Regions from separate parts of the Homo sapiens genome. Here regions 2, 3, 4, 5 and 6 are each linked to region 1. Evidence: fine-mapped expression QTL. A gene starts in region 1. Each other region holds a variant in brackets. All regions are shown on one strand. Distances are between the middles of the regions.

Region 1 (4,084 bases):
TCTAGGGGAGAATCCAATTCTTTGCCTTTTTTAGCTTCCAGAGGCCACCTGCATTTCTTGGCTCATGGCCCCTTTGTATTCAAGGCCAGTAGCACGGTATCTTCACACCTCTCTCTCTGACCTCTGCTTCTGCTGTCACACCTCCTTCTCTGACTCTGACTCTCTCCTGCTTCCCTCTTTCCCTTATGAGGACTCATGTCATTATACTGGGCCCACCTGGACCATCCAGGATAATCTCCCTACAGGAGCATAGGCTCTGCAAGATCTAAGTCCCTTTTGCCATGTCAGGTAATATATTTAGAGGTTGTGGGGATTGGGAGGTGGACATCTCAAGGGGGCACTATTCTGTCTACTGTAGTCGTAGAAATGAAAAGGGACTTGCCCAAGAGTACCCACAGAGCTGACTGAAAAGAAACAACTATGGGTAGGCTCACACCACTGGCAGAAGCACCCCTTTTCCTCCTCCTTGGCATGAAGCTAAAGCCCAGCCATTCTCCAAGGTCCATTTCAGGCTGCCCCTGCCCAGAAGCCACAGCTGCCCTCCTAGGCCTGCAGAGGTCATCCTCTTGACTGTGTCTGTGTCACTCATTGCCACTTGGCACACATTTGGTCAGCAGTCGTGAAGGTCTTCCATTGTTCTCTGCCCAGTCTTGATCCTGGAAGGCAAGGATCACACCCTAGAACTTTTTTGTGCCCACTGCACAGAGTAGGGTCTCAATACGTGTACGGTTCATGATGTTCCTAGCAGATTCTCCAAACTGACTCACTCAGCCCCTGGAACACTAAAAACTGCATTTCCCAGACTCCTTTGCAGCGTGGGCTAGGTTCCACCAAGCCAGACACAGTGAAAGTGAGTGGGTGGCCACAGGTGGAGGGCACAGTGGTGGATATGTTTTGTTCTTTTGGGGGCAGCTATGCTGGGGGCTGCACTAAGTGATGGGGCAGTGGTCCCAATGGAGTAGTAAAATTAAGTGTTTCTCGTGGCTGCATGGCTCCTGGCTGTGTAGGACTTAGACCCGTCATCTGTAAGCTCCTTCACCTCATGTAAACAAAACCCCTCTAGCTGGAGTGGTGTCTATTGTCTGCGACTAAGAACCCTTATATAAGGTATACTACTCCCCAACCCCATTAGTGGAAATCCCAAAGGGTAGGAACTGTATTTTATTTCACTTGTAAACAGCTCCCCTAGTAAGCATGTCAACAAAATATACACAATTCATTGAACCCCATAACATTTCAACGAATTCCTCATCCTTTCTGTGAATCAAGAGCCTGAAAAGAAATGGTGAAATAATATGATCCTCTCTTCTTTGAAAGCTCAAAGCTATGTTGGACCAGAAGTAAAGTGTTCTCGTTTCTATTTAATAACTTGAAAGGTTCCGAGGGGCCATTGAGGAAACTCCTCCCTTTTAATATCAATGTGTATTTATTGCAAAAATAATGTAGCATCGAGTGGTATTTTATAGCTTATCCAAAAACCTCCTGGGTTTAACGCATTGTGATAGTCCCGTTTTCTTCTCAGCCCAGGTCCTATGCATCCTCATCTATGCAGGGCTGTTATCTGCATATAATTTTTTTTTTTTTTAAGACAAAGTCTTGCTCTGTCGCCCCGGCTGGAGTGCAGTGGTGCAATCTCGGCTCACTGCAACCTCCGCCTCCCAGGTTCAAGCGGTTCTTCCGCCTCAGCCTACCGAGTAGCTGGGACTACAGGCATGCGCCACCACACCTAGGTGATTTTTGTATTTTTAGTAGAGACAGGGGTTTCACCATGTTGACCAGGCTGGTCTCGAACTCCTGATCTCAAGCGATCCACCCGCCTCAGCCTCCCAAAGTGCTGGGATTACAGGCATAAGCCACTACGCCCGGCCTCAATTTTGTATTGTACTTTTTCTTTCTTTCTTTAATAGAGACAGGGTCTCACTATGTTGACTAGGTTGGTCTAGAACTCCTGGGCACAAGCTGTCCGCCCGCTTCTGCCTCCCAAAGTGCTGGGATTGCAGGCGTGAACCACCGCCCCTGGCTACAGGTGCCTTCTTGTCTCAATTTGCCTTTGACCTTTCTTAGGGACTTGTTTTCTGCTTTTCCTGCTCTTTGTCCGCTGATCTCCTGGGAAGAAAGCTTCCGAAAAGGACACCGTTTCAGGGGCGAGTGACGCCGGGGTGCCCAGGCCGCGCCCCAGTTCCGGGTTTGCACCCGGTCTTCTTGCCCTGCCCCGCCCGCGGGACTACAGTTCCCAGGCGCCCCTGCGCGGCCGCGGCGCCGGCGCCGGCGTCGGTTGGGACGCGGAGCTGAGGAGCAGGGCCGGGCGCCATGGCACCGTGGGGCAAGCGGCTGGCTGGCGTGCGCGGGGTGCTGCTTGACATCTCGGGCGTGCTGTACGACAGCGGCGCGGGCGGCGGCACGGCCATCGCCGGCTCGGTGGAGGCGGTGGCCAGGTGAGTGGGCCCCGGGACGCCGCTGGGGCCGCCGAGCTCTAAGCTCAGCCCGCTCCCTGGCTGCCGGCAGGGGGCGGGGCGGCAGGGGGCGGGGCCGCGGCGCAGGCCCCGCCTCGGTCTCCCCCTTCCCACCCCGGTGCGCGCACAGTGCTGACCACGGACGACCCCACTGTTGCCCCCGGCGAGCACCAGGACTCTGCTGGTTAGGGCTGCGCGGTCAGACAGGGCGGCCACCTGGTACGTGCGCTGCTGAGCGCTTGACCTGCGGCCAGTCTGAATTGAGATGTGCTGTAAGCGTAAAATGCATACCGATTAACAAGACTTAGCCGGGCGCGGTGGCTCGCATCTGTGATTCTAGCACTTGCAGAGGCAGAGGAGGGAGGATCGCTTGAGGCTAGGGGGTTGGAGACCACCCTGGGCAACATAGGGAGACCCCGTCTCTGCCAAAAATTTAAAAATTAGCCGGGTGTGGTGGTGCACGCCTGTAGGCCCAGCCACTTGGGAGGCTGAGGCAGGAGGATCGCTTGAGCCCAGGAGGTCAAGGCTACAGTGAGCTGTGATCACCCCACTGTACTCTAGCCTGGACTGCAGAGCGAGACGGTCTCATAAACAAAACCCCCAAAAACACCAGACTTCGTGAGTAAAATGTAAAATAAAAACATGAAAATGGGTTATGTTGTTTGCCTGTTGAAATGATATACTTTTTGTTTGTTTTGTTTTGTTCTTTTCAGATGGAGTCTTGCTCTGTCGCCCAGGCTGGAGTGCAATGGCACGATCTCGGCTCACTGCAACCTCCGCCTCCCGGGTGCAAGTGATTCTCCCCCTTCAGGCTCCCGAGTAGCTGGGATTACAGGCACCCGCCATCATGCCCAGTTACTTTTTTTATTTGTTTTGTTTGAGACGGAGTTTTGCTCTTGTTGCCCAGGCTGGAATGCAGTGGTGCAATCTCTGCTGACTGCAACCGCCGCCTCCCAGGTTCAAGCGATTCTCCTGCCTCAGCCTCCTGAATAGCTGGAATTACAGGCATGTGCCACCACACCCGGCTAATTTTTTGTATTTTTAGTAGAGACGGGGTTTCACCATGTTGGGCAGGCTGGTCTCTAACTCCTGACCTCAGGTGATCCACCTGCCTCGGCCTCCCAAAGTGCTGGGATTATAGGCGTGAGCCACATGCCCAGTTGATAATATTTTTAATATACTGTTTTAGGTTAAAATATTTGAAATTAAGTATACCTTTTTTTTTTAACTTTTGTTAATGTGCTTATTAGAAAACTTTAAATTACCTTTGTGGCTCTCATTATAATTCTGTTGGACTGCATTGGTTTAGGTGAGAGGAGGAGGAAGAGAACATCGTGCCAGCCAAGACTTGACCATGAGGACACTTTTTTTTTTTTGAGACAGTTTTGCTCTTGTTGCCCAGGCCGGAGTGCAGTGGCGCCATCTGGGCTCACTGCAACCTCTGCCTCCCAGGTTCAAGTGATTCTCCTGCCTCAGCCTCCCAAGTATCTGGGATTACAGGCACCCGCCACCACGCCCAGCTAATTTTTGTATTTTTGGTAGACATGGGGTTTCACCATACTGGCTAGGCTGGTCTCGAACTCCTGACCTCAACTGATCCACCTGCCTGGGCCTTCTAAAGTGCTGGGATT
Region 2 (4,084 bases), 22 kb after region 1:
GCTCACTGTGACCTCCACCTCCTGGGTTCAAGAGATTCTTCTACCTCAGCCTCCCGAGTAGCTAGGACTACAGGTGCCCGCCACCACACCTGGCTAATTTTTTTTGGTATTTTTAGTACAGACAGGATTTCTCCATGTTGACCAGGCTGATCTCAAACTCCTGCCCTCAAGTGATCCACCCACCTCGACCTCCCAAAGTGCTGGGGTTACAGGACTGAGCCACCATGCTCTGCCTTATCTGCCCTCTCAGTGGTCCTCCACTCCAGCCTCATTTCCTGGCTCCACCTTCCACATACCCCACGCTGCTCGAGTTCTTTCTATCCGAGAGGGTGGGGCCAGTGCACACCTGCCTGTGCGCAAGGTGGGTGGCCCTTCCCACCACCTGGCCTGCCCTTTCCTGCCATCTCCTTGTCCGTCCCTCAGGTCTCCAGTTGGGCCTGAATCCCCAGTCTTTTAAGACCCCACACTGGGCTGTGTCCTTTCCCCACTATGTGGGAGAGCTCCAGGAGTGCTGATTTCCTGTTCCTGACTCCACTGTGTGTAGATATCAGCTCCATCTCCAAAGTCTCAGGCTCAAGAGCGGAACAGAAAGCCCTTGACATTTCTGGGATTCAGTCCCTCACCCATAACATGGATAAATTACATTCACACTGGGTTCAGTTTGAGTTGAGTTTTTAGTTGGGTCTCACTTGCTCAGATGGAAGTTGATTTCAAGCCGTAGTTCTAGTAACTGGGTTGAATCTGCGTGTATTCATTTCATTGGGCCACATCTGTAAACAGAACTTGAGCACATGCCTCCTCTCTATGTGTGTTTTCTATAAATTTTAAATTATTCATTTAACACTATTGCTTAGGTTATAAAAAATACACAACTTGAAAGAATAGGTGAAGAGCCAAGATGTCTGCATCTTTGGAGATCAGTGGAATGTGTGTGTTTCGGGACCTGTCTGAGAACAGTGCCAGATGCAATTAGCATGGCTGATTAATTTTACTAGGGTTTCTTAAAAGTGCCTCCCGGCCCTTGGGCTTGCAGCTTGATGTCTTTTCCACGAGTCCACACTGCAGCTCCATGCAGATGTCAAATATGACCGCTGCCTTGTTGGGGCCGGTTTGTCCAGGAAGGGATCTTGTGATCTTGGCGAGGGAGCCAGGTCCTGCCTGTCACCCTCCCCCCAGGTCTGAGTGACCCACCCCGCCTGCCTCTGTAGGTTCCTCTAGCACGCTCGGGTCCCTTCCTGGTGGGCGCCAGGTCCTCCAGCCTCCTCTCCCTGCACAGAAGCACCACACCCTGGCCCTCTCTCTTGCTTCCCCAGGGAGGCCTCCCCTGACCTTCCTACCCCACCTTGTCACCCTCTGTCTGCTCACCCTGTTTATATTCTGCATAGCGTCTCTCTCTTCTCAGTCACAAATTGCCCTTCCTTTGCAGGGTCTCTTGTTCCTATTCCAACCTCCTCCTATTCCAACCTGGATGGTGGCCTGGAGATCAGGGAACTTTTCCATGCTCACGACTACAGCTCTGTGCACCAGGCCAGTGCCAGGCACGTAGTAGGCGCTCAGTGACAGTTTGCAGAAGGGTGGATGTTACTTCATTTGGTG[C/T]GTTCTGAGAACTTGCCCAGGTGCAGCCTGGATTCGCGGGTCTCCTATGAAGTCAGGAGGGAAGAAGCTCGGTGCCGCCGGCCAGTGGCAGCATCCTGAAGTTCATGAGACCTCCAGGCTGGGTTTGGGCAGGGTCCACGTCCTGTCTGTCCATCCCGGAATGTTGGTGTCCCTGATGACTTTGGCAAACCTTTCTCCATTGACAGTGATGAGAAGACAAACCTGTCTCGGGCCATCTGCCTTTGTACTTTTTGGGAAGTATGGATCCAGAGTTAGTAAGGCGTGGACGTGTGCAGCTCACTTGCAAGTGGAAATGCCAAATGTGGTGGAAAGGGACAGAGAAATAGCTGTGGACATTCAGAGGTGGCCCCTAGCCAGGCTGAGCAGGATTGTGGAGAGGAGGTATTGCATGGATCTCAGGGGCTGGGTAGAAGTGGCCAGGCAGGTGGGCCAGGCACGGTGGCTCACACCTGTAATCCCAGCACTTTGGGACACCTGAGGTCAGGAGTTCGAGACCAGCCTTGCTAACATAGTGAAACCCCATCTGTACTAAAAATACAAAAAATTAGCCAGGTATGATGGCAGGCGCCTGTAATCCCAGCTGCTCTGGAGGCTGAGGCAGGAGAATCGCTTGAATCTGGGAGGCGGAGGTTGCAGTGAGCTGAGATCATGCCACTGCACTCCAGCCTGGGCGACAAGAGCGAGACTCCATCTCAAAAATAAAGAAATAAAAAAAATAAAGAAGTGGCACAGGTAGAGAGGCGGGGGGACAGAGTTGCATTCCAGGCAAGGGGAGAGGCAATGAAAAGGGGGGTCAGGTGGGGAACCTCGGGGAGCCTCAGGTGTATGAAGTCCAGTGAGGATGGAAAAGAGTTGTCGGGGCGTGGTATGGGGGTCCTCTGAGAAGGGATCTGCTTCAGCTCAGAAATCCCAGCCTGAACACATCCTGGATCAGCCAGGACCCCCTCAGGGGCTCGCAGTGGCCTAGTCTGCTCTGGGCTTTGCTGGATGCCCTTCGAGAATCACCGCGCAACCTCCTTCAGAGGCCCAACACTCCACGTGCTGACTTCCCGGGCCTGTGTCTCCCCTGCCGCAGACTGAAGCGTTCCCGGCTGAAGGTGAGGTTCTGCACCAACGAGTCGCAGAAGTCCCGGGCAGAGCTGGTGGGGCAGCTTCAGAGGCTGGGATTTGACATCTCTGAGCAGGAGGTGACCGCCCCGGCACCAGCTGCCTGCCAGATCCTGAAGGAGCAAGGCCTGCGACCATACCTGCTCATCCATGACGGTAGGCCTGTCGGACACCAGGACCTCACGGGGGTGAAAGCTCCCCTTTCCCAGGGTGGGGGCTGTGCAGAGAGCCTCTTTCACTGGGCCAAACCACTGACTGAGCTAGGCCACCAACACTCATGGGTTGGGGGTAAAAACCTCATGGGACTTCCTGCTGGGGGCTGGGGGCAGGTTAGGACCCAGCTCTGTCCATTCCTTGGCCTCACACCAGAGGGTCCTTAGAGCAGGTTCTGGATGGCTCCTGGGAGGAAAATCCTAGGCTCTCTTTCCTGATCTAGGATGGACCAAGCGGCCAGGGAATTGTCAAGGTGGCGGAGTTCTAGCTCCTGTTGAGAAAGAGACAGAGAGAGAGAGAGAGAGAGAGAGAGAAAATGAGAATGAGAATGAATGAATATAAATGAGAAGCTACATTGAGGTCCATAGCTTCTAACGTCTGGCACCATAGCCTTCAACTATGTGAAAACCAGCCCTGCTCTTTGGAACAGTTTGCAAATGGCGTAGGAACAAGGTTTGCATCCTGATTTTAGTCTGAATGCAAGAACAGACAGCCCCTTTGACCCTCAGTGGGGAGGTTTTCTTGGAATGAAGCAGAAGGAACAATATTACTGGTGCCTCCTGAATATTTAAAAAGAAGAGACATTAGCAATTCCAGACACTTCTCCATTGGTCCACTGCACCTTCTTCCTTCCTCTGCACTTGATATTTTTAGTTTTACAAACTGCTAGGCAGAGGCAAACATGGTTTTTTCCTTTCCAGGGCAAGGTGGGGGCTCTCAAGAAGTGGCGGGTGCTCCCTGGAAAGCCTAGATGTCGACTTCATAGCCCTGGTGCCAGTTAAGGGTGACAGGCCTGGCCTTTAGAAATCATGTTTCTCAAAATTCCTTCTCTGTAATCTAGGATCCCTGCTAGTGCCTTTAGAACATGGTCTTCAAAGAAAGAAGATTTAAGAAAAATATCTTGCCCCACCCTCCAGAAAAGGGTTGCTGGACCCGGGAGTGGAGCTGGAAGAAGCCAGCAGGAGAGGGAAGTGGGCATCCGCTTGGAGGGTGGCCTTGGCCAGTGAATCAGACAAGCAGACGGCAAAGCTGGGAGGCTGAAGGGAGGATGAATGCCCTTCCTCAGCTGTAATCCTGCATCCGTGTTTTCAATAACTAGACCCTTGTTTTCAGACTTGGAATTTTTTTTTTCAGTCATTGGTGGATT
Region 3 (4,084 bases), 140 kb after region 1:
GTGTGAGCAGGTTGGGCAAGGGGAGGGCGGGTCTCCAAGCTGGGAGCCTCCTCGCGGCCCTCGCCTCGGCACTGATGTGGCCCTGGACCCTCCGGTCCCTCCAGGCCACCCTTCGTGCCAGGACCCAGCTGGCTTCAATGGCAGGAGGTGCCCTGGGCTGGAGGGTCCCCACGCTGGGCTCCGGGGCTCCAGGTTGACTCAGCAGTCCCCAGGCCTGTGGGCAGAGCTGGCCTGGGAGGACACGGGCCTGAGGGCTGAGCAATCCCTGAGTGAGAACAGGTAGCTGAGGCTGGAGCCTGTGTCCCCCAGGCAGCTGCTAAGGCCCGGGCCTGGGGCTGGAGTGCTGGGCTCAGGTGCCATGTGAGCTCTTTGCAGGCAGGGACCAGGTCAGAGTCCTTTGTGTGCCTCTTGACCCCCAGGTCCTGGGAGAAGAGGGGCTTGGGAGGCCTTGGCTGGATGCACAGGCTCCATGGGAAGGAGCTCCTGCTCGGGTTTCTTTGTAAGCAGCACGACATGGCACCTTCCCAGAGGTACATGGGTCTGGGCATGTCATTCCCCGACCTGCTTCCAGAACCCAGGGGACGGAGGTCGGAGCAGCCTGCCTGAGATCTGTGGCCATCTCCACTCCGCCACCCAGCTACCCCGTAAGGAGGCCACCGACCCTCGGGCACCTGCCAGGGACCCAGCTCAGGCCAGGTCACGGGCTGGATGTGGGATGTTCTGGGCCTTCTGCCCACCTCACTGGGCCCCAGCAAGCTGCTGTCCTGAGGGTGGCCGTGCTGGGCCAGCACGTGGACAGCAGGGAACCCCATGGGCACAGGCCTAGTGTGTGTGATGTACCGGTGCAGACCATCTGATAAGCAGCCTTCAGAGAAGCTGCGGGTGTGCAGGTGGAGGCAGACCTCCCAGCTGCATCCTCCAGGCACTTGCCAGGGTCAGGCTCTGGTGAACACCCTTCTAGAAATAACCCCCCAGGCCCCCGGGGGTCTTGGGCTCCTGGGGTTCTGATGGAAGGATGCCCCTTGCCCGGCCTCACTACCTCCACCTCATGAATCACCCTCTGTCCTTGTCCTGCAAGTCTGTCGGCACAGCCGAGCTGGCGTCACCCTCTGATGCCAGTGCCCAGATCCCTGAATTCACTGGGCAGCCGCCCCCTGCACCTGGCTCCCAGCCACTGCCTTTCCAAAGCAAATGGGGACAGGGATACCTGCCCCTCCCTGGGTAGGCAGCTGTTGCGGCCTCCAGTTGTGAGAGTCTCTGCCCCACCCTGCCCCTTCCCCTGCCCCTGCAGGGTAGAGAGGAGGCGGGTGGGCCACCGACTGGGAGTCCCGGGCAGCTCAGGTCCCTCAAGAGCCCCTCGGGGAGAGGCCGCACCCGTCTCCCTTGGTCAGTGTTCCCCAGGAGGCGGTGCTGGCCTGCGTGTGCCCTGGAGGAGGCGGCAGGGAGACTGGCCTCATGGGGCTCTTTTGCTGGGGCCTGGCCACCATTTTCCTTCGATTGGTACAAAGACTGTCCCTGTGAAGCTGGCCAGGCCCCAGGCACAGAACCGCCTTGTTTTCTGCCTCTCACTCACCCGTTCCCTGCATTCGGCTGACAGAGCATGAGGGGGAGGAATCACTGATGACAGGCACTGGCCTGCCCAGCTGGGGGCCTTTGTTTATTCATTTGGTGGGCACTTCCTGGGTGCCTGCTCTGGGTCAGGCCTGTGGGGGGGACCACCGAGGGCAGGAAACCTGGCCTGTCCCTCCAGGAAGCGAAGTCAACACTGGCACCTGCAGATGAAGTGGCAGAGCAGCCCCCAGCTTTGATGGCATGGGGTGGTTGGAGGGCACATTCTGCATGCTCAGAAGAGAGAGCAACTCGCCCTGTGGAAGGAGCATACAGTGGGAGATGGGGACAGGTGAGTGGGGTCTTGAAACGTGAACAGGAGTTTGCAGGTGGAGCAGGTTTCAAGAGCATTCCAGGGCACAGCATGGGCAATGGCAGGGAGAGCTGGGATGTCTGAAGAGCAGCAGCCCAGACACTGAGTGGCTGGCGAGGCGAGGGAGGTCCGCAGGTGGGGCCCAGTCAGGATGGACTCATCTGCCATGCTGAGGAGCCAGGCTATGATGTGGGCAATAGGGAGCCACAGCAGTTTACACAGGGGAGGCGGGAGCAGCTGAGCATTTAGGGAAGCCACTCTGGCTGCAAAAGAGGAGAGGGGGCCAGGC[A/T]GGAGGGAGAGCCAGTGGAGGGGGAGGGGGAAGGGGAAGGGAACAGGCTTCAGCAGAAGACCTCCTGCCTTCAAGGGGCCCGGGTCACCCTGTGGGTTCCGGTGGTTAAGGCCAGCCTCCTGGTCCTGCAGCCACATGCCTCCCAGCTGTGTGCCTCCGCTTCTACCTCCGAAACCCGGGCAGCAGGACCCACCCTGCAGGCTCCTGCGCAAGGATGGGGGAGGTACCTGGAGGGCCCACCCCACATCAGAAGCAGGTCCTCAGCCAGAGACGCCCAAATGCAGCCCGAGGGAGGCTGCCCCCAGGAGAGGAGAGGAGAACCCGCAGCCGCCCCGCAGGCGCCTGGGGAAATCACTCACTGCTCCCACCTCCCAGCCAGGCCCCGAGGGCCAGGCACTCTGGCTTAGTGAAGAAGCCACCCAGCAAAGGCCTGGTGTCTCCACACCATTCTCGGGGGGACAGCAGCAAGGACGATGGACGGGAGCAGTGCTCAGCCTTAACGTCCCTGTTTCCGGAAGCGTCCCTGCCCCGCTCAGTCCTGCCCCACTCCCTCTCCCATCAGTGCCCTCAGACTCCAGGCCCTTTTCTTTCTTTCCCAGCAGTGCTGACAACTGTGAGTGTGGAACTGGACTGTGAACCCTGGAGGGCAGATGGTGGAGGTGGGAGGGGGCAGGGCCAGCGCCAGGGTGAGCTGCAGGGTCCCCAGGTGCAGGGGAAACGCCAACTTCGTGTGCAGTCTTGCCTCTTTTGTTTCGTTTCAGAGTGGCCCCCAGAGCCAAGCCCTATGCTACCTTACAGATGAGGAAACTGAGGCTCGGGCAGGTGAAGAGACCGGCCCTGGGCCATGCACTTTTTTGGGGACAGAGCAGGGTGCTCAGCTGTCTGGGGGCCTGGGCTGGGCCTGGGGCAGGGGGAGGAGCAGCGCTGTGACCCCCACGGGGAGCCGTCAGCCAGGCCCGTAGCCAGGGAAGGGCGGAGGGGCTTAACGCAGGCCCACATGGCCAGGACACAGAACCGTGGGGGCAGCCCCAGCCCTTCCCTGCCTGTTACAGGCCCCTGCCCCTGTTCCTGTGTCCCATGCCTGTCCCCTCCCTCCATGTGTCTGTCTCTACTCGCCTGCCCTCTCTCTGCCCTCTTTTCTCTGCTTCATCCTCTTTTTCCGTTTCTGCCTGTCTCATGGTTCTTCCTGTCCCTGCCCTCCCTCCCTCCGTGTGTGGCCGTGTCTCTCTGTCTGTCTCTTCCTCCTCCTCCAGCTCTGTCCCAGTAGGGCCACTCCGGGCAGGATGGTCTGCGGCCCCTCCTGCTTCACCCTCTCCGCTCTGTACCCACTGCCGAGGACACACCTTTGCTGGGTTTCTTGGTTCAGCTTTTGTACCGTGACATCTCTGAGGTCCACAGGTCACAGGGCACTGGCCAGTGTGGGGCAGGGACTCCTCCTGCCCAGGCCATTGGACAAAGCAGAGCTGCTTCAGGGGCTTTGGGGCCACCAGGCCAGGAACAGGTCCCCTCCTGCCTACCCCAGCTCCCTGGGAGACACAGCCCACAGCAGCGTCACGTAATTAAGACATAAAAGTCCACGATTTCCGCTGCGTGTGGGCAAACACCGGCCGGGTGCTAATGCAATCCTTTCTTTTAGTGGATTCTTGAATTTAAATGATATGTAATTAAACATAATTAGCCACGGACGCCATTCGGCTAGGTACACGTGCGGAGTGGGGCTGGCCGGATTCTCATTACAAAGCGTCATCTTCTATGGGGAGACCTCTTGTTCCCTCTCGGGGCTGGTTGCTTTTGCCTGGACAATAAGCCTGGCCCCAGGGCACCTGGGGAAGGTGTCCAAGGAGGGGGTCCTGGGGGCCAGTCCCCCGGGGGCT
Region 4 (4,084 bases), 130 kb after region 1:
GTGGGAGCTGTGGAGCTGCCTCCAGGCCTTCCCGGAGGCCCCATGGCTGTCTTACTTGGTTTGTGGCTTCCCAGTAAACGGTGGGACAGGACCAGGGTCTGAGGAAAAGCAAAGCAGTGTTGACAGAGTGTCCTGGAGGGCAGCTTGTCTCCCTGGCCTGGAGATGAAAACTGAAGAAAACAAGATTCCGTCTAGGAATCGTCCAGGGCGCGGCAGCCCGCCAGGAGCCCGGGCAGCTTGGATGGGGTCCCTGTGGGCACAATCGGCCCAGTGTGGGGCGCACCGCCCCAGGCAGGCTGGCGTCCCGGGGGCCAGAATGAATGGACCCTCACTGGGCCGCTTTGACAGTTTATGAGGTGATGACGTTGCAGCTATGATTGATGAGGTGGCCTCAGTCGGCGTTTCGGGGAACCGGGTACAAGTTGCTAGGGAAATACAGGGGGAGGGTGCTGCCCTCCCCACTGGCCCGCTCTGGGTCCCTGTGCTATGCCTCAGTCTCCCCATCTGTGTGGAGGAACTGATGAAGACAGCACATGCCCCCTGCCCTGGTCCCTGGATTGCAAGTCCAGACAGAAGAGAGCGTCCTGGGAAGCCAGCTGAGAGCACCTCTTTCTCTTTGGGTCCTGCAGCCCGTGGGTGGCAGGGCGGTAACCCCATCTGCCCAGAACCAGGCTGCGCTCTCGGGAGGGAAACAGACTCTTATCCTCTTAGGTACAGCCTCCCTGGCCGCCTCGGATGAGCATCTGCCCCTCCCGGGCCTCAGTTTCCACACCTGAGATGGGAGAGGTTGCATCCTAAAGGCCCTCCATCTCTCAGGTTGGGGGATCACTCTTGTTTCCCTGCAGTTGTTTCCAGCATTAGAGTCACACTGGGGTCCTTGTTCTAGCCCCCGTGTGTTGGCTGCATGACCCGAACTTTACTCCCATGTCCTCCTCTTGGGGGTGTGACATGAGGTCTTCCCCAAGTGGCCCCGAGTGAGGCACCACCATGGACCTGATGGGCAGATCCCCCAGGGCACTCTATCCAGAGGGTGGTGGACCCAAACGCGACGTCCCCAGTGGCGGTGGCTGAGGAGAGGGGTTGGGGCGAGGACCAGCTCTGGGCAGTCTCCAGGTCATGCGCGTTTGACGCAGGAGGTTTTGCCGGCGCCAGGGGCTCCCTCGGCTGACCGAGGGTGTCCCTTACTCCATAAGGTACTGATATGGTCTGCGGAGCAGGTGGCATTTGCCATGCCTGCCCTGCTTGGGTATTTGGCCCCAGGGCCAGGGCTGTCCCTCCCACAGCTATTGAACACCAGGTCCTTGCTGCGTCTGGCTGGGCTGCAGAATACCCTTGACCTTTCAGCATCCTCAGTACCTCTGTGGAGTGCTGCCATGACCAAACTAGAGACTGTTATTATTACGCACATTTTAAGACAGCATCGGCCGGACGTGGGGGGCTCCCACCAGCACTTTGGGAGGCTGAGGCAGGCGGATCACTTGAGGTCAGGAGTTCAACACCAGCCTGGCCAACATGGGGAAACCCTGTCTCTACTAAAAATACAAAAAAACTAGCTGGGCATGATGGTGCATGCCTATAATCCCAGCTACTCAGGAGGCGGAGGCAAGAGAATCACTTGAACCTAGGAGGCAGAGGTTGTAGTGAGCCAAGATCATGCCATTGCACTCCAGCCTGGGCGGCAGAGTGAGACTCCATCTCAAAAAAAAAAAAAAAAAAAAAAGACAGCATCACTGTAGCCAAGGGAACTTAAAAGAAAAAAGTGCATGTTTAGACAGTTGTTCATTTCCTCCAGTTTCCTGCCAGCCCCCTTCTGTAGCTGTGGGCACGTGCACATATAAGTCTTCTCTTTCTCACCCTGCTCATTGTTCATAGCTGCATAATATTTTACAGAGCAGATAAACTCTGCCGGCCTTAACTACTCCCAGGGTCGAACGTCTCCTTTTCTATCGTAAATATCTCTGCAATTCCTATAGCTTTTTTCCTTCAATTCAGTAAACTTTTTTTTTTTTTTTAATTTGAGATGGAGTCTCACTCTGTCACCCAGGCTGGAATGCAGTGGTGTGATCTCAGCT[C/G]ACTGCAACCTCTGCCTCCTGGGTCCAAGCAATTCTCCTGCCTCAGCCTCCTGAGTAGCTTGGAAAACAGGCATGCACCACCACACCCGGCTAATTTTTGTATTTTTTAGTAGAGAGGGGTTTCACCATGTTGGCCAGGCTGGTCTTGAATGCCTGATCTCGAGTGATCCACCTGCCTCAGCTTCCCAAAGTGCTGGGATTACAGGCATGAGCCACCGCACCCAGCCCCTTTGCTCTTCCTTTGTCTTCTGCCATGATTGTGAGGCCTCCCCAGCCATGTGGAGTTGTGAGTCCATTAAACTTCTTTCCTTTAAACATTACCCAGTCTCAGGTATGTCTTCATTAGCAGCATGAAAACAGACTAATACACCATGTCATTTAATGAGGCTGGGCCTGCCTCTTTCTGATGGAATGAACTCTCCCCAGGTGACAGCCTCTGGTCCCCTCTGCCTTTGGAGTGACTTCTCCTGCATGGGGGTTCTGGGCAGGGTTGGGGGGTGAACACTGGAGAGGGATCAGTCCCAGCTCTGTTCTTCCCCACCCGCTGCAACCTGGTTGGGGACGCGAGGAGGGCACCCAGCAGGCTGCCAGGGGGAGGAGGAGGGACTGCAGTCTGGGCCCAGAGCCCGGTTGTCCCCCATGGAGCCACACAGCAGGCACCTCAGAGTTTGCATCCATTGGAGATGGCCAGGAGTCTGCTCGTGTGGGAAGAATGGCTTCTGAGCGCCAAGGTAGCCTGTGCTGGAGCCTTGGCTGCCATAGAAGGCCATTCACGTCCCTCACACCCTGGCCTGTGCTGCTGGGAAGGCTGTCACTCCTAAACAGTTATCTGCTTCTGTGTTAACCTACAGGGATTCCCTCTTTGCTTTGGCTGCCAGGGAACTCAAAGCTAAGTTTTTTCGCTCACATTCCCAGGCTTCTGGTGTAGATATCTCCTTTCTTCCTTACTGTGGTTTCTGAGCCATCTGGTGTAGATATCTCCCTTCTTCCTTACTGTGGTTTCTGAGCCACCCTGCAAACTTCCTCTGCATCTGTCCCAGTACAAATATCACTGTGTGCCCTTCTAGGCTATCTGGGACACTTAAAAATAAATAAATAAAGACATCTGTCTGAGGCTTAACTTGCATATAGCAAAGTGCATGAATCTGAAGTGTGTGGCTGATGAATCTGTACACACCGCTCTCCCTGCACAGCCACCCAGATGAAGACGAGGAGCACCTCCAATACCCAAGCCTCCCTCCACCCAGTCAACACTCTTCTCCAGAGGGAGCTAGCCCGTGCCTTCACCCCCGTCTTCTGCCTGACGGTAAACTTGAGGTGAATGGGCTCCTACCCATGAACACCCACCGTTCATTTCATCCGTGTTGTTCTGTGCAGCCAGACTCCATCCTACGGCATCCGTGGGTGATGTTTCATCACGAGGCTGGACCACGATGTGTTTATCATGTCACTGTTGCTGTCACATGGGCTGTTTCTGGCTTGGGGTCCTTATGAACAGAGCTGATCAGAACATATCTGTCCATGGCTCTTGGTGGACATAGCCTCATTTCATGTGTGTGACTCAGGAGTGAGGTTGCTGGGTCCCGCGGCATTCATGTGTTTAGTGTAGGAGACTCTTGCCAAACATTTCTCCAGAGTGTCTGATGTACCATGTTGCGCTCCCGCCAGCCTCGCTGAGTTCCCATAGCACCATGTCTTCTGCAGCACACGATGTGGCCGGACCTCTCCACGCTGGCCATTCAGGTGGACGTGGAGCGGTGTCATTTCCTTCCTGAGGGGCCTGCATGAATCCCTTTTAGGTGGAACACACACAGAGTGGGCCGGCGCTCATAAGCAGTCCCGTGTGAATCCTTGGAGAGCTGTGGAGGTAGCACAGCTGCATCTCTAGGTTGGGGCCACTCTTTTCTTGGAACAAGAGCCCTAAACGTGGGACCCTAAACAACACCCAGGGAGGAGCAGCCTGGCCTATGAGCAGGGGGACACCATGAAGCTGGGTGGACGGGTGGGGAGGC
Region 5 (4,084 bases), 120 kb after region 1:
CACCCCTCCTCGTCTTCCTGAGGCCTCCATCCCTTCCTGATCTTCCAGGTCATGGGCTCCAGGCTTGGGCCCACTGCTGTCCTTCTCCACTCTCTCCCCAGGGAACCCACCTGGGTTGTGGCCTTAAACCCAGCCAGATGATGCTTCTCCAGCCTCTGCCTCCTGCCGGGCCCTCCCCTGAGCTCAGAAGCTGCCATCAGTAGCCATGCAACCTCCCCCTTGCCATCATGAAGTATCTCAAACTTGGCAGCCTCGAAACAGAGCCCTTGGGGAGTTTAAGCAGAAACAGAATATTTTTGCATAGTCTTAAAGTAATTCCCCCCACCCCCAAATATTGAGCAATTACAAAGGGCAAAATAGGAAGTTTACGGTGGAGAATCCTGGTGGACACAGCCTTGGCCAGGTGATCAAGGTTCATGTCACCAGTCATGAAGCGGCGTGCACCCCTGGTGTGCTGAGAAGGGCAGCTTACCTCCTGCAGGTGCCCTTGCCCCAACGCACCACTCAGCCTAACCATGGGGAGCATCCGACAAAACCAAGCTGTCCGCATCTCCAAGGACAGGCACACTGGGGCTTAGGGCTTCAGTGGGGGCGGAGGTACAGTTCACTCCCTAATACGCCATTTACTTGGAGAAGCCCTCTCCAGCTGCCTGAGGCAGAAGCACCCGGTTCTCTCTCTGCAGGACCCCTGCTTTGTTCTTCCTAGGATGCGTCAGCCCCTGATTTTCCATGACAGTCCCCTGTGCCCATGTCCTGCAGCCTCTCCTGGGGGCAGGAGCTACAGGGTTTCTTGACTCCTACCTCAGCACTTTGGTCCAAGCTCTGAGCAGAGACCTCTGTAGGCGTCTGCAGGACTGGCTGGCCCTTGTGTCTGTCTTTCCCCTCGTCCTGGCCCCCTTTGTCCACTCCTGCACCAGCTTCCCTGGACCCACTGCCACTGCGTCACGTGGTCGGATCTGTGTCCCCTGCACTCTCACCACCTCCAACTTGCATCCCGGTCCCCCACACCCTGACCCCCAAAGGCATTGTGCATGTGGATGAGTGAGTGAAGGAAAGGCTGGCGTGTTGGGTGTGCGAGGTCGCAGGGGCATGAGGTGCCTGGACGGCAGAGAGCCAGGGCTGGGTGAGGACCTGGGTGCCAGGTCGGGGGTCTGGGCAGCCTGGTGGCCCCCTGAAAACGTTCACATCCCTTGGGGCCTGCTGTGATACATACTAATCAGTGCTTCATGAGAAAGGTATGAGCCGAAAGAAATGGGGGTTCCCACTGGATTGGTCGTTTCTGCATTGTCCGGAGCTCTCAGACCTGGTTTCTTAACCACTGTGTTCACTGAACACCCCGGGCTTGATCAGCTGCTGAGGGTGACTTCACATGAGATTATAATTGTACTGCCTAATAGAGTGCTCACACATGTTAAAACTACCTGGCAGGCAGGAGTGAGAATACAGCTTTCCCAGAAACGTGTTCAAAGAAAAACCCATTACCAACCCGGCAGAACATAAAGTACTAGTGTGGGGTATGAGGCAGCATGTGGGGGCGCTGGGGTGGCAGCAGGGCCAGACCCCACTTCAGGGGTTGCCCCCAGGACCCCCCTTGCGGTACCCGTATATCCCACCCCCAGACTCCTTTCCATGAGCTGCTCCCAGACCCCCTCATATCCATCCTGCCTCCAGAACCCCTATATCTTGCTCCCACTCCCTACCATATGCTGTTCCCAGACCCCCCTCCATGGCCTGCCCCCAGATCCCCCTTTGCTGCCACCCCTATATCTTACCCCAGACTCCCCCATATCTCGCCCCCAGACCCTCCTCCATGGTCTGCCCCCAGGCCTGCTGGTAATATGGGATACAGAGGTCTCCTCACTGCACACACAAAACTCCTTCCCTGAGCGAGGGATAGGCAGAGCTGAGGGCGGGGGTACTGGGGGGCTGAGGGGGGTTCTTTAGGGCAGGAGTTACCTGCCCTGTAGACGGGGAGACCACATTAGTGTTTGTGCAAAGCCCTGCCCTCGTGCACCTGTCCTTCCGTAGCCCACGATACCTCATCCAGCCCGGGCCCGTGGGTGGGCTGCTGAGCACCCGACCACAGCCAGGCCTCCATGTGCCACTGTCAAGGGGACTTGGCCC[G/A]CCATGATCCTGAGTGCACAGGTACATTGCTCCGCCCTCTCAACAGCCACGACCCAGAAATAAAGTAGGCACTGTAATTTGCATTTTGAGGATAAGGAAACCGAATAATAGAGTCTACTGAGCGCATACTCAGTCTTTCCAGACCCTAGAAAGTAGGTACCATTGTCATCCTCATTTCAGAGCTAGGAGAGCAGAGGCCAGACAGGTTCCATAGCCTGCTCAGGTGGGTCCGTGCTGGACCAGGAGAAGGGCCAGGTAGGCTGATGGGTCCTGAGCTTGTGCTCCCGACCGCCAGGCTGTGTGTCTGATGGCCGAGGCCAGGGTGGCTCAGCCAAGCCCAGCCAACCCAAGACTAGACCATCCCCAGCGTCCACCCCAGCCTCCTGGGCACAGGGGTCACCTCCCACCCCTGGCCCACCCATACAGCCTTTTCCCATCTAACCTTTTCTTTAAAGGAAGGCATCCCTTGGAATGAGTCCACCCTGAGATTTTATGGATCCAAAGAAAAAACTTAATTAGCTGCATAAACTGTCAGTTGAGACTCTCCAGAGGACACACCTCCGGCTTTCAGGTTCCCCAGGGAATCTGAGGCTCTGAGGCAGGTGGACAGCCAGGTCCCTCTTTACCCAGCACCAGGTAACCTTAGAGGCCTGGCCCTGCCTTCCTCATTTTGAAATGTCACCCTGTGGTCATCTCTCCTTCCCTGATGTGAAGCAGTGACCAGTTCTGCCCCATCCTACACATGTGTGCACACATACATGCACACATGTGTAAATACACATGCATGCACATGCATATGTGTGCACACATATGCACATACCTTCACCTTCCTATCCCTCCCCAGGGGAAGGCCTTCCTTGGGGCTGCCCCTCCTCCACTCTGGCAGCATTGGGACTTGAATCTTGTGGCCCCGTCACAACTGTACTCAGCTACTCCAGCTCCTTGTGTGACCTCTCAGCCCCCAGGCTCTGAGCTACCTGAGGTGAGGTGGGGCCACACTGGTCCCCACCTCGGTGCAGCACACACAGCCCCATCCTGGGAGTGCCACCCAGGTTTCCTCTAACTGTGCTTTCCAAGGGCTGGAAGGACCTCTTCCTCTATGCCAGGTGTGCTAGAGTGGCCCCAGCCGAGAACCTGACTGGGACCAAGCCCCAGGACAGTGGTCAGGCACACACCTGAGTCGCTCTTCCTCCCATAGACACATTTGGAGTTCCCACTGCCTTCCTAGGCCCCACCACATGCTGTCACCTCCAGGAAGCCTTCACAGGTTGCTCCCTGCTGATAGCCTTGACCTGCTTCCCAGGGCATTTGCAAGGGAGTAGAACGAAGACCAAGTCCGTGCAGGGGCTGCTGGCTCTGTGCTCAGCACACGCCCCGTGACCACCTCAGGGGCGGCTCTGCGAGTCCCCACTTGACAGGTGAGCCACAGGGCCACAGGCATGGCTTGGGGTCCTCTGCGGAGCCCGATGTGTCACTGGCCCTCACGTGTCCTTCTCCGATCTGCTCACTCATTCATCCATTCATTTATTCAGCAGGGGTTCTTGAGTGTCTCTGAGGTGGAGCGTCTGCTGTGAAGGACTGGCGGGACGCAAACGGTTACCACTGGTGTGACGGGCTCTGATCAGGAGGCACAGGGTGTTGGGGAGCTCAGAGGGTGACATCTCACCCTGCCTTGGCCAGTGTGGGAGGGAGAGGGTTCAGGGAGGATGTAACTGTGTGTGTGGCAGGTGCTGTGGTGGCACAGAGCTGAGGGGACATAGGCACAGTTGCTGGATGCAGGGCTTACACCGCGCCACGCGTCAGAAGCTAGCAGGGGCTGAGCAGCATCTCTGCCCTCCCCGCTTGCACCCCCACCATCCAGTGCAGCCCAGCACCTAGGGGGCATGGGGCCAGTGCCTGGCACATTTTGTCCTGACTGTGGAAAAAAGCTCTTCACAGCCCTGAGTGCTGCTTTAGCTTT
Region 6 (4,084 bases), 35 kb after region 1:
TTAGGAGGTTTTGCCAGATGATGGGAGGTGCTTGCTCCCGTCCACCCAACCTCTAGCTCCTCCAGCCGGCCCCAGGGTAGCTGAGGGACAGGGGTCTGGGCCCAGAAGCCCCCAGAATCCTCAGCTCCAAACAGAGCTGTACCTGTCGCAATGGAGTAGTTTTGTTGATTTCAGGTTTTCTTTTGTTGCTGGGTAAGCATTTCCTGTGTGGGGTATATTCTTTCCTCCGTCCTGGCTTACTTCCACACATCACTTCATTAGGGAGGCCCTCCCTACCCACCTCGATGCCCTCCTTCTCCTGGCACAGGTGGGCAGGAGGGGACGAGGGTCATGGCCTTTGAGGGCCTGCAGAGGGCCTTGCCTGTGGTGGCGTGGCCACCCTGGTCCTCAGCAGGGTGCTCAGTGGATTCCAAGGTGCTCCCTGGACCCGGACCTCCCCTTCACTTCCTTTTAGCTCAGGTCTCAGCTTTCCATGCCTCTGCTGCCTCCCTGAACCCAGCCTGTCCCCCGCCCTGTTCAAGCAGACTGCCCCTCCCCTGGGTCCTGCCCTTTAAAGTTTGTCTGTGGGCTTCTTTGCTTCCCCACCAGACTGTGAGTCCCTGTGGAGCAGGCTGGGGCTGGGAGTATCCCTGAGTCCTGCAAAGGGCTGTGGAGCATCTGGGATCGTTAATGCCAAGGGGGACCAAGGTAACCTGGGCCATTTGCAGCACCAGCCAGTGCAGGCCCCAGGACCCGGTGTCCCCTCACTGTTTCCTGAGAACTCTGGACCCCACTAAGGAAACCATCAGACCAAAGTAGCTGATTGTCCAACTGGGAAAAAGAAAAAGCAGTACTTTTTTAGGCCATGTAAATGCAAAATATACATTTGAAGTCTGCGTTTAAGACATGAACTTAGAGATTTCTAAGCCTGTTTTTGGGGGTCACTCTAAAAGGGAGGGCATTTTCAGGTCCCCCCTCTGTGAGCATTCACAGCATCCCAGCCAGCCTGTATCCCTGTGCCGTGACCCCAGAGCACAGAGCCTCAGAGGCTGTGGAACAGGCCTGGGGTTCACGTGGAGAGTCCCAAGCCCACGTCATGACAGGAGATGCCCACACCTTCAACAAACAGACTCCAAGCTCCAAAGCTGCCTAACAGGAGTGGCAGGGGGACCAGCCCTGGCAAGGCCCAGGTTTGGCTGAAGCCCGTACCTGCAGCCCAGCTTGTAAGTTTAGCCGGGAAGCATCTGAGGCAGGCAGTGGAGGACGCACAGGGGTGAGCGGTTCATCTCACAGGTGTGGCTGGGTGCCTGCTACAGCTTCAAGGCATCAGGTGGGGCAGAAAGGGACAGGCAGGGTGCCCAGGAGTGGCGGAGCTGGAGGAAGGGCACAGCCCCAGGGCAGCTCCCGAGGAGCTCAGTTCTCACACCCCAGGTGGTCACAGAACACATTTCAGCCCCCAAATTGAACAGGGCTGTGTTCATTTTTTCCTTCCCCCAGCTCATCTTATTGCTTGTGTCAGCCTGGGTGAAAGGTTATTTATAATAATATTCTCCTGTCTCATCTGGGCAGCTTCTGCATGGAAGGTACCGAGTTAATAACTTTGCATGCGTTATTTTGTTCAAGCTTCACAGCAATCCGTGAGGTAGGTATTGTTTGTTGTTCGTTTTGCCCATTTTACAGATTAGGAAACTGAGGCCCACAGGCGTAAGCAACCCAAAGTCACACCGTTAGAAGGCAGTGAGATCTGAATGCTCAAGTCAGCATGCGCTCTTCTTCCCTCTCGTTTTCTGCATACGTGCTTTCTCCACGTCTCCCATATCGTAAGGGCATGGCAGGAGGAGAGGGAAACTGATGTGATGGTGGATGGCAAAACATTTTAGTGGTTCCAAGAATCAAGCCCCCTTGTGTATTCTTGGCTTTCAATGAACTGCGTCTTCAGAGCAGCGCAGGTTAAACCACTTTCTCGCCTCATTGTAGTCAATTGGCTTAGTTCAGCCAGAGCCAGGTCTGGCCCACCATGTGTCTGGACTGTGAGTGCCTTGAGGCTCAGTGTGACGCGATCGTAGGGTGAGCCTGGCCGGGCTGCAGCCAGCCACCAAGCCAGCCCTGGGCTCAAAGAGCAGTGAGGCCATTTTGAGAGAGGAATGCTCCCTCGTGCAGAGCCTGTCTCCACCTCCATGAGACGGGAAGGAACAGT[T/G]GTCTTCTCATAAAAGCATCTGGCGCCCATGAAACCTGGCACCTCGCTTGACCTCCGGCTAACGGGATGCGGCAGGGTGCTGTGGAACTAATGGAGTTCTCTTCTTCAGCCAGCAATTAGGGGTTAATTATTAGCAATTAGGGGTTCGCCACATACCCCGTGGACCTGCTGTTCCTTCCCAGGACACAGGTCACTTGTCATTCTCTGTGTTAGCAACTGAAACCGTCTGCCTTCTGGGTCCCCTGTTAATCATTGCAGCAGGGTCCCCACGAGTCTGACAGCAGGGTTGCGTTCTGTGCGACCTGTGGCATCCCTGGAGCTGCTGGCTGCTGCGCTCGCCCCACTGGGTGTGGCGGCCTGCCGCCCGGCTCTGTGGTGCTGGTCCCCTGCGGTCATTCTCAGCGTAGCGCCTGGACTGCCCCTCAGCCGCGGCTTGGCTCTGCAGCCAGCGGGACAGGCCCGGTGCTCAGCTCCCGATACTTAGCATCCTGCGGTCAGCTCCCCGTGCTCAGCATCCCGTGCTCCGTTCTGCTCTCTCCTAGGCGTTACTACAAGGAGACCTCTGGCCTGATGCTGGACGTTGGTCCCTACATGAAGGCGCTTGAGGTACCAGCCCTGGTTCTGTCCCAAACTCTCTTCAGACCTCAGGGCACCTGGGACTTTTTGGGTCTTTGTTGAGAAGAGGCTGTGCTTAATTAACGTACAAATGGCCTTTTGGGCTTCCACAAAGGCTGCCTTCCTATTCTGGGCTCCCCTGGCCGGGCCCTCGGGCCCTCAGGCCCTCAGCTGTCCTCCTCCCTCCCCATCTCTCCCTTCCCATCCTTCCCATCCTCCCCATCCTCCCCATCCTCCCCATCCTCCCCATCCTCCCCATCCTCCAGTGGGCGCAGCCCCCCCTGCCCGCCGTGGACCCTGCCGCTCTCCCAGCTGCTCTCTGCCACACTCCTCTCGGGCTTGTGGCTTCTGTATCAGTGCTGACCACCGCTCTCATTCCTGACCCTGGGCATCTGCAGCACCTCAAGCTTGACGGGTCCTCACTGGCCTCCTTCCTGACTTCCCCTTCAGTTTCCAAGGCCATCTGTGGCCAGGCCTCCGGGTGGGGCTCCCCTGGGTCCACTCTGGCCCAGGTCCCATTAGCTGCCCCAGGTCAGCCTCACATCCCGTCCCATCCTCACAGCTGCAGCCCCTCCTGCCTGCCTGCCGTCAGGTGGGAGGGAGAGGCAGACGAGCAGATGGAGCCCTGTGATGAGCTGCGAGTGGGCAGGGGAGAAGAGGGGGAGAAGGGATGAGAGGACGGAATTGCAGGCGAGTGAGCAGAGCACTGCTCTGCTGGCCCTTGGGAGCCCTGTAGTTTTGCCAGCTCTTGGATGCCTTCTGCTGTGGGTAGGCCTTTGAGTGGATGGCAGGGTGCCTGGTGCTAGGGGACCTGAGTGACCCGGGCAGCCCTTTCTGGAGTTGTGAGGCTCCTGCCTGTGAGATGAGTTCTCAGGCCCACAGCATCCTGCTTCTTCAAGGCCCTTGACTCTTGGGGGCACATTTGGGACAGTGTTTCCGTGGCTGGGCATACACCTGTTCCTTGATCCCAAACTTATGCCATGTCCCTCTCTCTTTTCCCAGTATGCCTGTGGCATCAAAGCCGAGGTGGTGGGGAAGCCTTCTCCTGAGTTTTTCAAGTCTGCCCTGCAAGCGATAGGAGTGGAAGCCCACCAGGTAGGTTGGCGCCTTGTGAAGTGGGTCAGGGGAGGCAGCCCCGTCAGGGAGGCCCTGGAGCTTGGAATGGATTACAGGACTCAGGCAGCCTGTGGGGTTGGCCAGGCAGCCAAGCGTGGGCTCCCTGTGAAAGCTGACCTGGCTGGGAAGGAGGGGGAAGACAGCAAACGAAATCCACTGAATAGTTTCAACCGTGAA

Which allele goes with the higher level. Alleles are on the strand shown, and positions count from the first base shown. SD is a standard deviation of normalised expression in the study named. Not every link is listed here.
As copies of C replace G in region 4, the expression in spinal cord of the gene that starts at base 2,271 in region 1 goes down (moderate effect, 0.46 SD a copy in GTEx).
With allele G in place of A in region 5, the expression in caudate of the gene that starts at base 2,271 in region 1 is lower (small effect, 0.27 SD a copy in GTEx).
For the expression in skeletal muscle of the gene that starts at base 2,271 in region 1, G is the low allele of the variant in region 6 and T is the other (small effect, 0.17 SD a copy in GTEx).

Evidence for each region.
Region 2: its variant is fine-mapped to the expression of LHPP in whole blood (INTERVAL, PIP above 0.99).
Region 3: its variant is fine-mapped to the expression of LHPP in whole blood (TOPMed, PIP above 0.99).
Region 4: its variant is fine-mapped to the expression of LHPP in spinal cord (GTEx, PIP above 0.99).
Region 5: its variant is fine-mapped to the expression of LHPP in caudate (GTEx, PIP 0.99). The same link has a PIP of 0.9 or more in amygdala.
Region 6: its variant is fine-mapped to the expression of LHPP in skeletal muscle (GTEx, PIP above 0.99).

The regions. Positions count from the first base shown.
Region 1 is chr10:124,459,553-124,463,636 of GRCh38, forward strand. It overlaps LHPP (phospholysine phosphohistidine inorganic pyrophosphate phosphatase), which reads left to right and starts at 2,271. Exons shown (of 7, transcript NM_022126.4): 1 at 2,271-2,435. The coding sequence starts at 2,311. RefSeq lists a silencer at 2,151-2,610.
Region 2 is chr10:124,481,447-124,485,530 of GRCh38, forward strand. It overlaps LHPP (phospholysine phosphohistidine inorganic pyrophosphate phosphatase), which reads left to right. Exons shown (of 7, transcript NM_022126.4): 2 at 2,693-2,880. Among named protein-coding and RNA genes, the nearest start is that of LHPP, 22 kb to the left of the region's middle. RefSeq lists enhancers at 85-621, 2,232-2,768, 2,769-3,304 and a silencer at 254-548. The variant C/T (reference allele first, on the strand shown) is at 1,597.
Region 3 is chr10:124,603,616-124,607,699 of GRCh38, forward strand. The region is part of intron 6 of LHPP (phospholysine phosphohistidine inorganic pyrophosphate phosphatase); the gene reads left to right. Among named protein-coding and RNA genes, the nearest start is that of FAM53B-AS1, 98 kb to the right of the region's middle. RefSeq lists an enhancer at 2,282-3,226. The variant A/T (reference allele first, on the strand shown) is at 2,211.
Region 4 is chr10:124,592,632-124,596,715 of GRCh38, forward strand. The region is part of intron 6 of LHPP (phospholysine phosphohistidine inorganic pyrophosphate phosphatase); the gene reads left to right. Among named protein-coding and RNA genes, the nearest start is that of FAM53B-AS1, 110 kb to the right of the region's middle. The variant C/G (reference allele first, on the strand shown) is at 2,073.
Region 5 is chr10:124,574,796-124,578,879 of GRCh38, forward strand. The region is part of intron 6 of LHPP (phospholysine phosphohistidine inorganic pyrophosphate phosphatase); the gene reads left to right. Among named protein-coding and RNA genes, the nearest start is that of LHPP, 120 kb to the left of the region's middle. The variant G/A (reference allele first, on the strand shown) is at 2,125.
Region 6 is chr10:124,494,243-124,498,326 of GRCh38, forward strand. It overlaps LHPP (phospholysine phosphohistidine inorganic pyrophosphate phosphatase), which reads left to right. Exons shown (of 7, transcript NM_022126.4): 4 at 2,719-2,782; 5 at 3,794-3,886. Among named protein-coding and RNA genes, the nearest start is that of LHPP, 34 kb to the left of the region's middle. RefSeq lists enhancers at 958-1,535, 1,536-2,113, 2,114-2,691. The variant T/G (reference allele first, on the strand shown) is at 2,177.